Regions from separate parts of the Homo sapiens genome. Here all the other regions are linked to region 3. Evidence: fine-mapped expression QTL. A gene starts in region 3. Each other region holds a variant in brackets. All regions are shown on one strand. Distances are from middle to middle.

Evidence for each region. PIP is the estimated chance that this variant, and not a neighbour inherited with it, causes the effect.
Region 1: its variant is the best candidate, but not a certain one, in a credible set for the expression of SYN1 in whole blood (TOPMed, PIP 0.60).
Region 2: its variant is the best candidate, but not a certain one, in a credible set for the expression of SYN1 in fibroblasts (GTEx, PIP 0.64).

What each region holds. Positions count from the first base shown.
Region 1 is chrX:47,597,515-47,601,686 of GRCh38, reverse strand. All of the region lies in intron 5 of SYN1 (synapsin I), which reads left to right. Among named protein-coding and RNA genes, the nearest start is that of MIR4769, 12 kb to the right of the region's middle. The variant T/C (reference allele first, on the strand shown) is at 1,961.
Region 2 is chrX:47,571,796-47,575,967 of GRCh38, reverse strand. ARAF (A-Raf proto-oncogene, serine/threonine kinase) reads right to left here. Exons shown (of 16, transcript NM_001654.5): 16 at 4,060-4,172. SYN1 (synapsin I) reads left to right here. Exons shown (of 13, transcript NM_006950.3): 10 at 694-840; 11 at 1,193-1,280; 12 at 1,378-1,966; 13 at 2,969-4,067. The coding sequence ends at 3,104. Among named protein-coding and RNA genes, the nearest start is that of TIMP1, 8.6 kb to the left of the region's middle. RefSeq lists enhancers at 1-61, 154-660, 661-1,168. The variant T/C (reference allele first, on the strand shown) is at 2,620.
Region 3 is chrX:47,618,036-47,622,207 of GRCh38, reverse strand. SYN1 (synapsin I) reads left to right here and starts at 2,351. Exons shown (of 13, transcript NM_006950.3): 1 at 2,351-2,856. The coding sequence starts at 2,480. RefSeq lists silencers at 2,128-2,337, 2,044-2,338.

The sequences.
Region 1 (4,172 bases), 21 kb after region 3:
GATAATACTGGCCTCATAGAATAAGTTGGACAGTGTTCCTTCTTCTATTTTTGGGAAGATTTTGTGAAGATTGGCATTAATTTTTTTTCTTTTTTTGAGACAGGGTCTTGCTGTGTTGCTCAGGCTGGTCTTGAACCCCTGGGCTCAAGCGATCCTCCTGCTTTGGCCTACCAAAATGCTAGGATTACAGGTGTGAGCCACCATGCCTGGTCGGTATTAATTCTTTTTAAATGTTTAGTAGAATTCACCAGTGAAGACATCTGGTCCTGGGTATGTCTTTGTAGGAAGTTTTACTTATTCCTAAATCAATCTCTTCACTTGTTATAGGTCTATTGAGATTTTCCATTTCTTACTGAGTCAGTTTTTGTAGTTTGTGTCTTTCTAGGAATTTGTCCATTTCATCTAGGTTTTCTAACTTACTGGCACATAATTGTTCACAGTACTCTCTTATACTCTCTTATAATACTTTTTATTTCTGTAAGGTCAGTAGTATGTCCACTCTTTCATTCCTGATTTTAGTAATTAGAATTTTCTGCCCTTTTTTATTCTTAGTCTAAAGGTTTATCAATTTTATTGATCTTTTCAAAGAACCAAATTTTTGTTTTATTAGTTCTCTATTTTTAAAATTCTTTATGTCATTTATTTCTACTCTTATTATGTTTTTCCTTGTGCTTGCTTTGGACTTAGTTTGCTCTTTTCTTTCTAATTTCCTAGAAAAAAATGGAAGATTAGGTTACTGATTTTGATATCTTTCTTCTTTTTAGATATAGGCAGTTACAACTATGAATTCTCCTTTAAGCACCACTTTAACTGCATCCCTTACATTTTGATATGTTGTGTGTTCATTTTCATTCATCTCAAAGTATCTTCTAATTTCACTTGTGATTTCTTCTTTGACCTATTGGTTATTTAGGAGTGTGTTACTTTCCACATATTTGTAAATTTTTCAAATTTTCTTCTGTTTTTGATGTCTAATTTCATTCCATTGTGGTCAGAGAACATATTTTGTATAATTTCAGTCCTTTTCAATTTACTGAGATTTGTTTTCTGGCTTAACATATAGTCTGTCCTGAAGAATGTTCCATGTGCACTGAAGAAGAATGTGTATTCTGCCATTGTAGGGTGAAGTGTTCTATAGATGTTTATGAGGTCTAATTGGTTTATAGCATTTTTCAAATCTTCCTTATTGGCCATGCACAGTAGCTCACACCTCTAATTCCAGCACCTTGGGAGTCTGAGGCGGGTGGATTGCTTGAGTGCAGGAGTTCAAGACCATCCTGGGCTACATGGCAAAACCCCAACTCTGCAAAAAATACACATGCACACACAAAAAGCCACATGGTGGCACACGCCTATAGTCCCAGCTACTCAGGAGGCTGAAGTGGGAGGATCACTTGAGCCCAGAAAGTGGAGGTTGCAGTGAGCTGAGATTGCACCACTGCACTCCAGTCTGAGTGAGACCACGTCTCCAAAAAAAAAAAAAACTTCCTTTTTGGTTCCCTGTCTAGTTGTTTTACCCATTTCTTTAAATGAGATATTGAAGTCTTCAGCTATAATTGTTGAATTGTCTATTTCTGTCTCCAATTCTGCCTGTTTTTATTTCATATATTTTGTGCTGTGTTGTTAGGTGCACATATACTTATTATTGTTAAATCTTCTTGATGGATTGACCATTTATGCTTATAAAATATTTTTCTTTATCTCAAGTAACAATTGCTGTTTTAAATTCTATTTTACCTCATATTAGTATAGCTATTCCAGCTCTCTTTTGGCTATTGTTTGCATGGTAAATCTTTTTCCATCCATTTACTTTCAACTTATTTGGGTCTTTGAATCTAAAATGTGCCTCTTACAGATAGCATATAATTAAGTCACGTTTTTCATCCACTGTGCCTATTAACCCTTTACCGTTTGTGCTGAGAACACTCTCTGATGGCACTTGCGGCTGCAGTGTTTACCC[T/C]GAGATAACTTTGCCACAAACTGTCTCATTTTTATTATTATTTTCACATCACTCTAGTATATCGACTTTGGAAACAAAAGACATCATTCTATTTATAGCATTCTGTTTTTAGGAGTGGTATTTCCACTTACAAAATATAGTAATTCTCAATCATTGAAAATGTCAAATCCTAGAAAATGTAACATCCCTACAAATGATGTTAACATCGTTCTTGAACAGTCGTTGGATGAAGAATCATTTGATGAATCTGATTTTTCCAAAATAGATGGTTCTGATGATTCAGATGATTCTGATGATTCAGATGATTCTGATGTTAGTTCAGCTTAGAAATAACTCCAAGAATAGTTTTTATATTTTGTTTTGACATTGAAAATCAGTTAGCTTTGCTTCAGCCTCAAAGAGCATGTTTATATAAAATCTAGTGAGCACAGGCAGCAAGCTGCACGTTTTTTTTTCCTAAACAGGAAAAGGGTTAATCGCAGTGTTTAATTAACTTATGTTATTGTAATTCCTGATAAGGTAGGGTTTATGTTTGCAATTTTGCTATTTGTTTTCTATATCTTATTTTTTGTTCCTGTATTCCTCTAGTAATGCCTTCTTTTAAGTTAAACAGATATTTTCTAGTGTACCATTTTTAATTTTTCTGTTATTTCTTCCCTATGTCTTTTATTCATTTTTTTAATTTAAAAAATTTTTATTTTTTTTTGATACAGGGTCTTGCTCTGTCACCCAGGCCAGAGTGCCATGGTAGGAACATGGCTCATTGCAGCCTCAACCTCCTGGGCTCAAGCTACCCTCCTGCCTCAGCCTCCTGAATAGCTGGGACCACAGGCATGTGCTATCATGCTCAGCTAATTTTTAGTTTTTTATTTTTTATTTATTTATTTATTTATTTATTTTGAGACAAAGTCTCACTCTGTCACCCAGGCTGGAGTGCAGTGGCACGATCTCGGCTCACTGCAACCTCCACCTCCTGGGTTCAAGCAATTCTCCTGCCTCAGCCTTCTTAGTAGCTGGGACTACAGGTGCCTGCCACCACACCCAGCTAATTTTTTTGTATTTTAATTGAGGCGGGGTTTCACCATGTTGGCCAGGCTGGTCTCGAACTCCTGACCTTGTGATCTGCCCACCTTGGCTTCCCAAAGTACTGGGATTACAGGCGTGTGCCACCGCACCTGGCCAATTTTTAATTTTTTTGTAGAGACAGGACCTTGCCATGTTGCCCATGCTGGTCTCAAACTCCTGAGCTCAAGTTACCCACCTTGGCCTCCCAAAGTGTTGTGATTACAGGCATGAGCCACTGCACTTAGCCTGTTTTTTTTTTTTCTTAGTTGTTTCCTTGGGTATTACAATTAACATCATTATTTATATTACTCCAATTAGAATTAATACCAAATTAAGCTCAGTAATACAAAGAAATTGCCTCTATATAACTTTATTCCTTCATCCCTCCTTTGTGCTATTATTGTCAAACAAATTACATCTTTACACATTGTGTGCCCATGAACATAGTTATAGTTATTGCTTTATGCAGTTGTCTTTTAAATCAGGAGTAAAAAAGTGTTACACGCAAAAAAATGCATTTATACTGTCTTTTATATTTACCTATGTAGTTAACTTTACAGGTGCTATTTATTTCTTTATGTAGATTTACATTACTAGCTAGTATCATTTTATTTCACCCTGAAGGACTCCGTTTAGCATTTTTTGTAGAAGTTTGTTAGTGATGAACTATCTCAGTTTTTGTTTATCTGTGAATGTCTTAATTTCTCCTTCATTTTTGAAAGATAATTTTGCTGGATGTAGAATTCTTGTTTGGCAGTCTTTTTCTTTCAGTACTTTGAATATGTTGTCCTACTGCCCTCTGACTTCAAGATTTCTAATGAGAAATTAGCTGCTAATCCTATTGAGGATTCCTTGTATATGATGAGTTACTTCTCTCTTACTTTCAAGATTCTCTCTGTCTTTAGCTTTTATAAGTTTATGATGTGTCTGGGTGCCTATCTCTTTGAATTTATCTTAGTTGGAGTTCAGTGCACTTCTTGAATGCATAGATTAATGCTTTAAATCAAATTGGGGGGATTTTTAGCCATTATTCCTTCAAATAGTCTTTCTTGCACCTTTTTTTCTCTCTTTTCTCTCTCCTTTTGGGACTTCCATTATGTGGGTGTTCATATGCTTCATGGTGTTCCACAGACCTCTAGGACTGTGT
Region 2 (4,172 bases), 46 kb after region 3:
GGCAGAACACTAGACTGAACTTGCACGTCCCTGGTGACTAGCAAAACCCTTATTAGATTGTTTAGTGCTCTGCGAATCGAGACATCTTGGTGAATGGCGAGGCACTTAGTAACCTTTAAAGTATTCTGCGAACTGGACCGACAGCAAAGCATTTTGGAAAGGACAAAGCACCTAGAAAACCGTGAAGCAGGGATCGGCAAACATTTTCTGTAAAGGAGCAGACGGTACATATTTTAGGCTTTGTAGGCCACGTAGCCTCTGCCGTAACTACTCAACTCTGCAAAAGCAGCCATAGACGATATGTTAAAAAAATAAGTGTGGCTGTGTTCCAATAAAACTTTGTTTATGGACATTGAAATTTAAATTTCATGCCATTTTCGCATGTTATAAAATCTTTCGATTTTTTTCAACTGTTACAAAATTTAAAGACCCATCCTTAGCTCTGGGTCATACAGAACCAGGTGGTCGGCCAGGTTGGGCCCATGGGCCCTAATTTGCTGAGCCCTGCTCTGAAGCACCTTCTAAGCTGTAAGGTACCTTGGAACAGACAAGCCTTCCTCACCGTGCACAATCAGTGCCTCAGACACTGGGGCTCAGCGGCGGCCATGCCCTTGGCCAACTGAAAGCACGGTGTTACTGCCGCCTCAGGTGCGAGGCCTGCCTCTCCCCTCACGGATCCTTTCCTTCCCCCAGGTGGTGGGTTCCTCCATGCCGCTCATTGGTGACCACCAGGATGAAGACAAACAGCTCATCGTAGAGCTCGTGGTCAACAAGATGGCTCAGGCCCTGCCCCGGCAGCGACAGCGGGATGCCTCCCCTGGCAGGGGCTCCCATGGCCAGGTCAGGCCCCTGGCGCTGAGCTAGTGGCTTGAGCTAGTGTGGGGAGGCCGGCCCTGGGTCATGCTGTGCCATGAAGCTGATAATCTGTAGGCTCACAGCATCACCTTTGCACACATGTGGCTGCGATTGCCAATTGTTTAAAACATTGATAAGCAGCTGCTGCCCTGACTTCCCTGAGCACCTCCCTGCCCCGCCCCTGGGAACAGGTCCCCCACCCCACAACCCAGAGTACCCTCAGCTCAGCCACAAGTGGGGCAACACCCAGCGCACAGGGAACCTGTGTCATCACTGGCTGATGCTCCACTGGCTGGTAACTATTTTTAACCTCTCCTGCTCCATTCCTCTGCCGCAGACTCCGTCCCCAGGGGCCCTGCCCTTGGGCCGCCAGACCTCCCAGCAGCCCGCAGGGCCCCCGGCTCAGCAGCGACCCCCACCACAGGGTAAGCGAGAGGCTGGCGGTCGCAGTCCCCTCCCTCAGCCCGCCATCTCTTACCCGCTCACTCTCACGTGTGCTCTTTCTCTCCCTCTGTCCCCCAGGCGGCCCTCCACAGCCGGGTCCAGGCCCCCAGCGCCAGGGACCCCCATTGCAGCAGCGCCCGCCCCCGCAGGGCCAGCAGCACCTTTCAGGCCTTGGACCCCCAGCTGGCAGCCCCCTGCCCCAGCGCCTTCCAAGTCCCACCTCAGCGCCCCAGCAGCCCGCGTCCCAGGCCGCGCCGCCGACCCAGGGTCAAGGCCGCCAATCCCGGCCAGTGGCGGGAGGCCCCGGGGCGCCTCCAGCAGCCCGCCCGCCCGCCTCTCCGTCTCCCCAGCGCCAGGCGGGCCCCCCACAGGCTACCCGTCAGACATCCGTCTCTGGCCCGGCTCCGCCAAAGGCCTCTGGGGCCCCACCGGGCGGGCAGCAGCGCCAGGGCCCGCCCCAGAAACCCCCAGGCCCAGCCGGCCCCACACGCCAGGCCAGCCAGGCGGGTCCCGTGCCCCGCACTGGGCCACCCACCACGCAGCAGCCTCGGCCCAGCGGCCCGGGCCCCGCTGGACGTCCCAAACCACAGCTGGCCCAGAAACCCAGCCAGGACGTGCCGCCACCCGCCACCGCCGCTGCAGGGGGACCTCCGCACCCCCAGCTCAAGTAAGGGGACCCCTACAGCAGCCTTCGCCTTGCTGCTCACAAAGCGGGCCGCTGCCCCAGTAGAGCAGCCCTAGCTCCCTTGCTCCTCAGACCCAGGTCCTATGCAGGGGTCCCACGAACTCTCTCCAGCCTGAGCCAAGCCCTTCCCCCAAGCTTTCGCTCCTCCCGGCCCACCAGAGGCTCCGCACCCCCACCCCAGGAATTTGGTGCCAGAATCCCAGAGAAACTGCACTCAGTTCGAATTCCTCCTCAAAGGCCCTGGGAAAGTTTCCTCCTCCAGGGCCTCCCAGGCACCTGGCTGACCCACCCTCTGCAACTTCCTGCCCAGCCCAGAGCCTTCCCTGCCAAACTCGCCCCCCCGCCACCAACCCATCCCTAAAACTCCTGGCCCGAGTCCTAGTCCTCCTATCATCTGGCTCTTCCCACTCCATCCTCATACTTTTCCTCCTCCTTCACATCCTTCTGGCCCATCTCAGTCTCCCCGCGAATCATCACCCATCTGCCTTTTCTGGTCCATTCCAACTCCCATCCCAGCTCAGACGTCCTCCCTGCCCCACCCAGCTGCTCTGCCTTAGGCTGACTTGCCCAACAGCCTGTCCTTGGTCCAAGCCCTTTCTATGCCCTCCTAGACACCTCACCCTTAGATTGGAAAC[T/C]TCCCTGCTCATCTTCCCCTTTGTATCAAACTAGCCAAGAATTCACAGAGAAGGTTCTGCCCAGGACTCTTGCCACGAATCCCACACTTCACCCTGGATCCAAGTCCTCCCAGCCTGTCCCAGATCTCGCCTCCCTGGCCCAGGACTCCACCCACTCCACCTGAGTGCTCCCAGCCTTGAGAACCTGTTAGGGTCCAGGCCCATGGTGGCAGGTGGGGAGGTCACAGGCACAGCCCCAGGATCAGAGGGGCAGGGCTGGGGCTGGGCCTGGGGTAACGTTGTGTTTCTCTCCCCTTCCTCCCCTTCCTCTTCCCCCTTCCTCCCACGCCTCCACCTTGTCTCTCTCTAGCAAATCCCAGTCTCTGACCAATGCCTTCAACCTTCCAGAGCCAGCCCCGCCCAGGCCCAGCCTTAGCCAGGACGAGGTGAAAGCTGAGACCATCCGCAGCCTGAGGAAGTCTTTCGCCAGCCTCTTCTCCGACTGATACCCCACTCTGAGAACCCCAAAATCCCTGGGCAACCCTTCTCTGGGCCCTGAATCCATTTCTCACTTTTGGAGTCTCCAAATCCCTTGAGAACCCATCTCCCGGTTCTCCAAGATTCCACCTCTCATTCCTCAAGATCCCCGAGTACCTTGAGAAACCTGACTCCTCCTGGCCCTAAATCCGGTTCTCACATGTGGAATCCCCAAGTCCTTTTAGAACCCCACTCGTGGTCACTTCAGGATCTACTTCTGTTTTAGAACCTCCACATTCCTGAAGACCTCCGCCCCTGGTTTCCCCAGAGGGCGTTTTCCTTCCTGGAAGTGCCCAAATACCAGGCAACCCATTGCAGAATCCCTTCCTGGAGCCCTGAAGTTCCTGGAAAACCCTATTTTTGGTCCCAAATCTCTCCAGCACACCTATTTCCCATCATAATTTTCCAAATCCTCAAGAAACCCCTACTGTTGAGCCCCTTCCCATGGATCTTCCATCCCTCTGAAGATCCACATCTTCAAATGCCACCCAACACCTAGCCCCACAAGGATTTCCCTTCACCAGCTCCCCTCAACCTCATTCAATACCTTGGGAGCCCCTCCCACTTCCAGGACCCCTCGGTTCCCCCAGGGACCCCCTCCCCAGTTTCCTGCCTCTGACAGCTGTCTTTAAATATGCAAACTCCACCCATCTTCCCAGAATCCTTTGCACACGGAAGGCCAGTGGTCTCCGCTTCCCCACCTTTGCTGTGGTGTCTGTGTCTGTGACTGACGTGGCCTCCTTTTGTGCCGTGCTTGGCATATGTGGTCCTCGTTCATCGTGCCGCCTGTGGTGATGCGTGCAGTGACGCTGTTTATGTGGTCCGCACCTCCCCCTGACCTTCACTCCTTGCCTGGACTCACCCCACCCCTCAGCGGCTCTGAACCCCAAGAGAAGAGTCGGGAAACAAAATAAACAAGCAAAGGCCCAGCAGAATTCTGTGCTTCTTGGTGAAGAAAGAGAGGAGTCCTTGAATGGCGGGGGAGACACAAAAGGGACCCCCCAAAATCCACATGGGGTGCTGGGAACCCCAAAATC
Region 3 (4,172 bases):
CTGAATTCAGACCTAAAGGAGTCAGAAAGATCTGTAGACCTGCAGCTGTTCCTGTCCCCAAAGAGGGCACCGCGCCCTGCACAGCTTGTTTGCTTCCGTTACTGGGCAAAAAACCAGGGAGCACATACTTCAAGACATTGGAAAATATCTGATTTGCGGGGAGATCCCCATCTGGGTAACACTAGGATTTGGAATGCCAGAGAAGGAATCCTGAAGGGAGGAGAAAAGAGTGGCCAAATCAAAGGCCTGGAGGTGGGACTGAAGCTGGCTGGGTTGGAGGAGGGAGTAGAGGATGGTTTGGGAAGTGTTTGACTTGGGTACTGTGGAAGCCTAGGGGAGGAGGGGATAGAATCTGAGACCTGGGGGTGAGGGGTTCCTGCAGACAGTGGCCAAAGGCAGCCCTCGAGAGAGAAGGAGAGGACATTCCTGGCAGAAGTTACAACACATGCAAAGGTACAGAGGTTGCCCCCTTCCTACCCCTCTCCTTAGAGGTGGGTTAGAGATGTATCCTTTTTACAGATGAGGAAACCAAATCTCAGAAAGATTAAGTCACTTTCCCAAGTGTATGGTGGAGGCCCCACTTGAACCCAGGCACTGTGTCTCCAGACCCCACACTATTACTGCCTTGTTTAAACCAGCCAATGATTTAATGAATAAAGGATGAACAAATGAATAAGTGGATGAGTCACCTGAAAATTCTGCAGGCAAAAGAGACTCCATATCTACTTACTTCTTGCCTATCTTCTGCCACCTCTCCTAGTCCACCATCACTGCTCACTATGGTCAAGGTCCTACCCAATCTGGCCCCTGCTACCACAACCCCCTTCAGCTTGTTCCAGCCACATTGGCACTGGATGTTTCCTCTTCCTGGCACATTCTTAAAAAAATGTGTTGATCATAAAGTGAACATGACCCTTTGGGAATTAACTGGAGTTCTTGTATTCCCTCATCTGTAAAATAGACATTATATTATCCACCCCACTGGATTGTTGTGAGGGTTGGATGAAATGATGCATGTAAACAGCTTAGTTAAGAGTTGGGTACAATCAGTGAACAAATGATTATGAATTAGTGCTTTTATTGTAGTCAGAATCATAAAGATTTGACAGGTTCCCATATCCCACCTCTGCTTGGACTACCTCATTTGCTCATATGCAAACATTATTTGGTACCTACTGTGTGTGCACCATGGGATGGGCCTGCCTCTGTGGAAAGTTCTTGGGTGCAGGGGGAGACAGCCATGGGCACTGATGACATCAGGTAGTTATCGTGAGTTTTGGCGGTGTCCAGAGCAAAGGGATGGTGGCGTATATACCAAGTGTGTTCTGGTGTGGGGGTGGACACGCACCAGGGCTAGGGCTGCAGAGAATGTCTGTGTTGCAGATCTAGGTTTCTCCATGATCATCGGTGGGAATGTGTTTTGTCTGCAAGTGTATGCTCATATGAGTTTCCCTGGGTCTCTGTGTGTCAGTGTGTTACCTGTGTGTGTGGGGGTATGGGTGTATGCATGCATGTATGTAACATGCCCATGTGTGTTACTCTGGACTTGTATGTCTGTATGTATACCTAGATTGGCGTGTGTTCTGTCTGTACATGCCCTCGTATGTTTCCTCACTTTTGTGTGTGTTTATATGTGTGTCATTTCTTGTGTGCCTCCAGGCCCCCCTTGCCACCTTGGGCAAGGGTGTGTACACCACCCAAGTGTCCACCTCCGCTTGTCTGATGCTGTCTGTGACGCCCCCGCTCTCTGCCTAGCTGAGCCTGTGTGGATGTGGGAGACTAATCTCCCCGCGGGCACTGCGTGTGACCTCACCCCCCTCTGTGAGGGGGTTATTTCTCTACTTTCGTGTCTCTGAGTGTGCTTCCAGTGCCCCCCTCCCCCCAAAAAATGCCTTCTGAGTTGAATATCAACACTACAAACCGAGTATCTGCAGAGGGCCCTGCGTATGAGTGCAAGTGGGTTTTAGGACCAGGATGAGGCGGGGTGGGGGTGCCTACCTGACGACCGACCCCGACCCACTGGACAAGCACCCAACCCCCATTCCCCAAATTGCGCATCCCCTATCAGAGAGGGGGAGGGGAAACAGGATGCGGCGAGGCGCGTGCGCACTGCCAGCTTCAGCACCGCGGACAGTGCCTTCGCCCCCGCCTGGCGGCGCGCGCCACCGCCGCCTCAGCACTGAAGGCGCGCTGACGTCACTCGCCGGTCCCCCGCAAACTCCCCTTCCCGGCCACCTTGGTCGCGTCCGCGCCGCCGCCGGCCCAGCCGGACCGCACCACGCGAGGCGCGAGATAGGGGGGCACGGGCGCGACCATCTGCGCTGCGGCGCCGGCGACTCAGCGCTGCCTCAGTCTGCGGTGGGCAGCGGAGGAGTCGTGTCGTGCCTGAGAGCGCAGCTGTGCTCCTGGGCACCGCGCAGTCCGCCCCCGCGGCTCCTGGCCAGACCACCCCTAGGACCCCCTGCCCCAAGTCGCAGCCATGAACTACCTGCGGCGCCGCCTGTCGGACAGCAACTTTATGGCCAATCTGCCAAATGGGTACATGACAGACCTGCAGCGTCCGCAGCCGCCCCCACCGCCGCCCGGTGCCCACAGCCCCGGAGCCACGCCCGGTCCCGGGACCGCCACTGCCGAGAGGTCCTCCGGGGTCGCCCCAGCGGCCTCTCCGGCCGCCCCTAGCCCCGGGTCCTCGGGGGGCGGTGGCTTCTTCTCGTCGCTGTCCAACGCGGTCAAGCAGACCACGGCGGCGGCAGCTGCCACCTTCAGCGAGCAGGTGGGCGGCGGCTCTGGGGGCGCAGGCCGCGGGGGAGCCGCCTCCAGGGTGCTGCTGGTCATCGACGAGCCGCACACCGACTGGTAAGCCACTGCCGCGGACGTCTCCCGTGGGCCTGGGTCCCCAGATCGTTCTTCTGCGAATGAGCAATTATCGAGCGCCGCTTGTGTGCCTGACACCTGGCCCTCTCACCTAAATCTTTTTCCTTTAAATTATTAAGCTGGATGCTTCCTCTGTGCCCCGCCCTTGTCGCCCCCCTCCGCCCCTTAAACCTTGATGGATCCAGGGAGCAATTATCAGGCACCTGCTGCGTACCTGTTCCCTACTACCCCTCCCCCAAAAGTCTTTGGCTTCAATATATCCTATGAGCCTTCGAAAACCGAACGTGTCCTTCCTACCCTCCCCAACCCTTGCCCCATAGGCCTTGTCCTCTAATGGATCTTGTGAGCACTTATCTAGTACCTGCAGTATGCCTCATCCAAGAGCCCTTCCCCAAGGCCTTTGATTTCAATGAGGTTTGTGAGCATTCTTTGAGAGCCTGATACTGTCCTGTTCTCCTCAACCCTTGCCCTGAGGCCTTCTCTAATGGGTCTTGTGAGCATGTGTCCAGTCTATGCTATGTGTCCCACCCCAGCTCCGTCCTTAAAGCCCTTTTAAACTATTTAGTAAACATTGAGTACCTGCTGTGTATCCCACCCCAGCTTCTCTCCAAAAGCTTTGCCTTTCATGGATCCTGTGAGTTTTGATTGGATGCCTTCTCTGTGCCCCAACTCCAAGCCCTCTCTCTGAGGGCCTTTTCTCCAAAGGATCTAGGAAGCATTTGTTAAGTGCCTGATACGTGCCGCACCCCCAAACCCCTTCTCAAACAAATCATTTTCCTCCAGTGAGTTCCATGAGCAGTTTTGAACCTTCTTTGTGTGACTCATCTTCAGACCGTCTCCTCAAAGACCTTTCCCTACAGTGGATCTAGAAAACATTTATTGAGTGCCTCTTGTATCCCCCGTTCTCCAGCTACTTCTTCAAAGACCTTTCCTTTGGTGGATCCATCTAGCATTTATCAACTGCCTGCAGTGTGAGCCTTCTCTAAAAGTTCTTTCCTCCAGTGTATTCAGCAAGCATGCATTGACTGGTGCCTGCTGTATACCCCACCCTCAAACCCTTTCTGCAATACCCTTTCCTCCAGTGGCTTCAGTCTGCATGTATTGAGCACTTTCTGCATGACCCAACCTTAGACCTCTCCATAAAGGCCTGTGCCTCCAGTTAATACAGTGCTCAGATATCTGGCACTTGCTGTGTGTACCATTCCAGTCACTCTTTCCAAAGACCTTTTCTTTTAATCACTCCTTGGAGTATTTATGGAGCACCTGCTGTGTACCTGATTGTGTGCCTTCTTCACAAA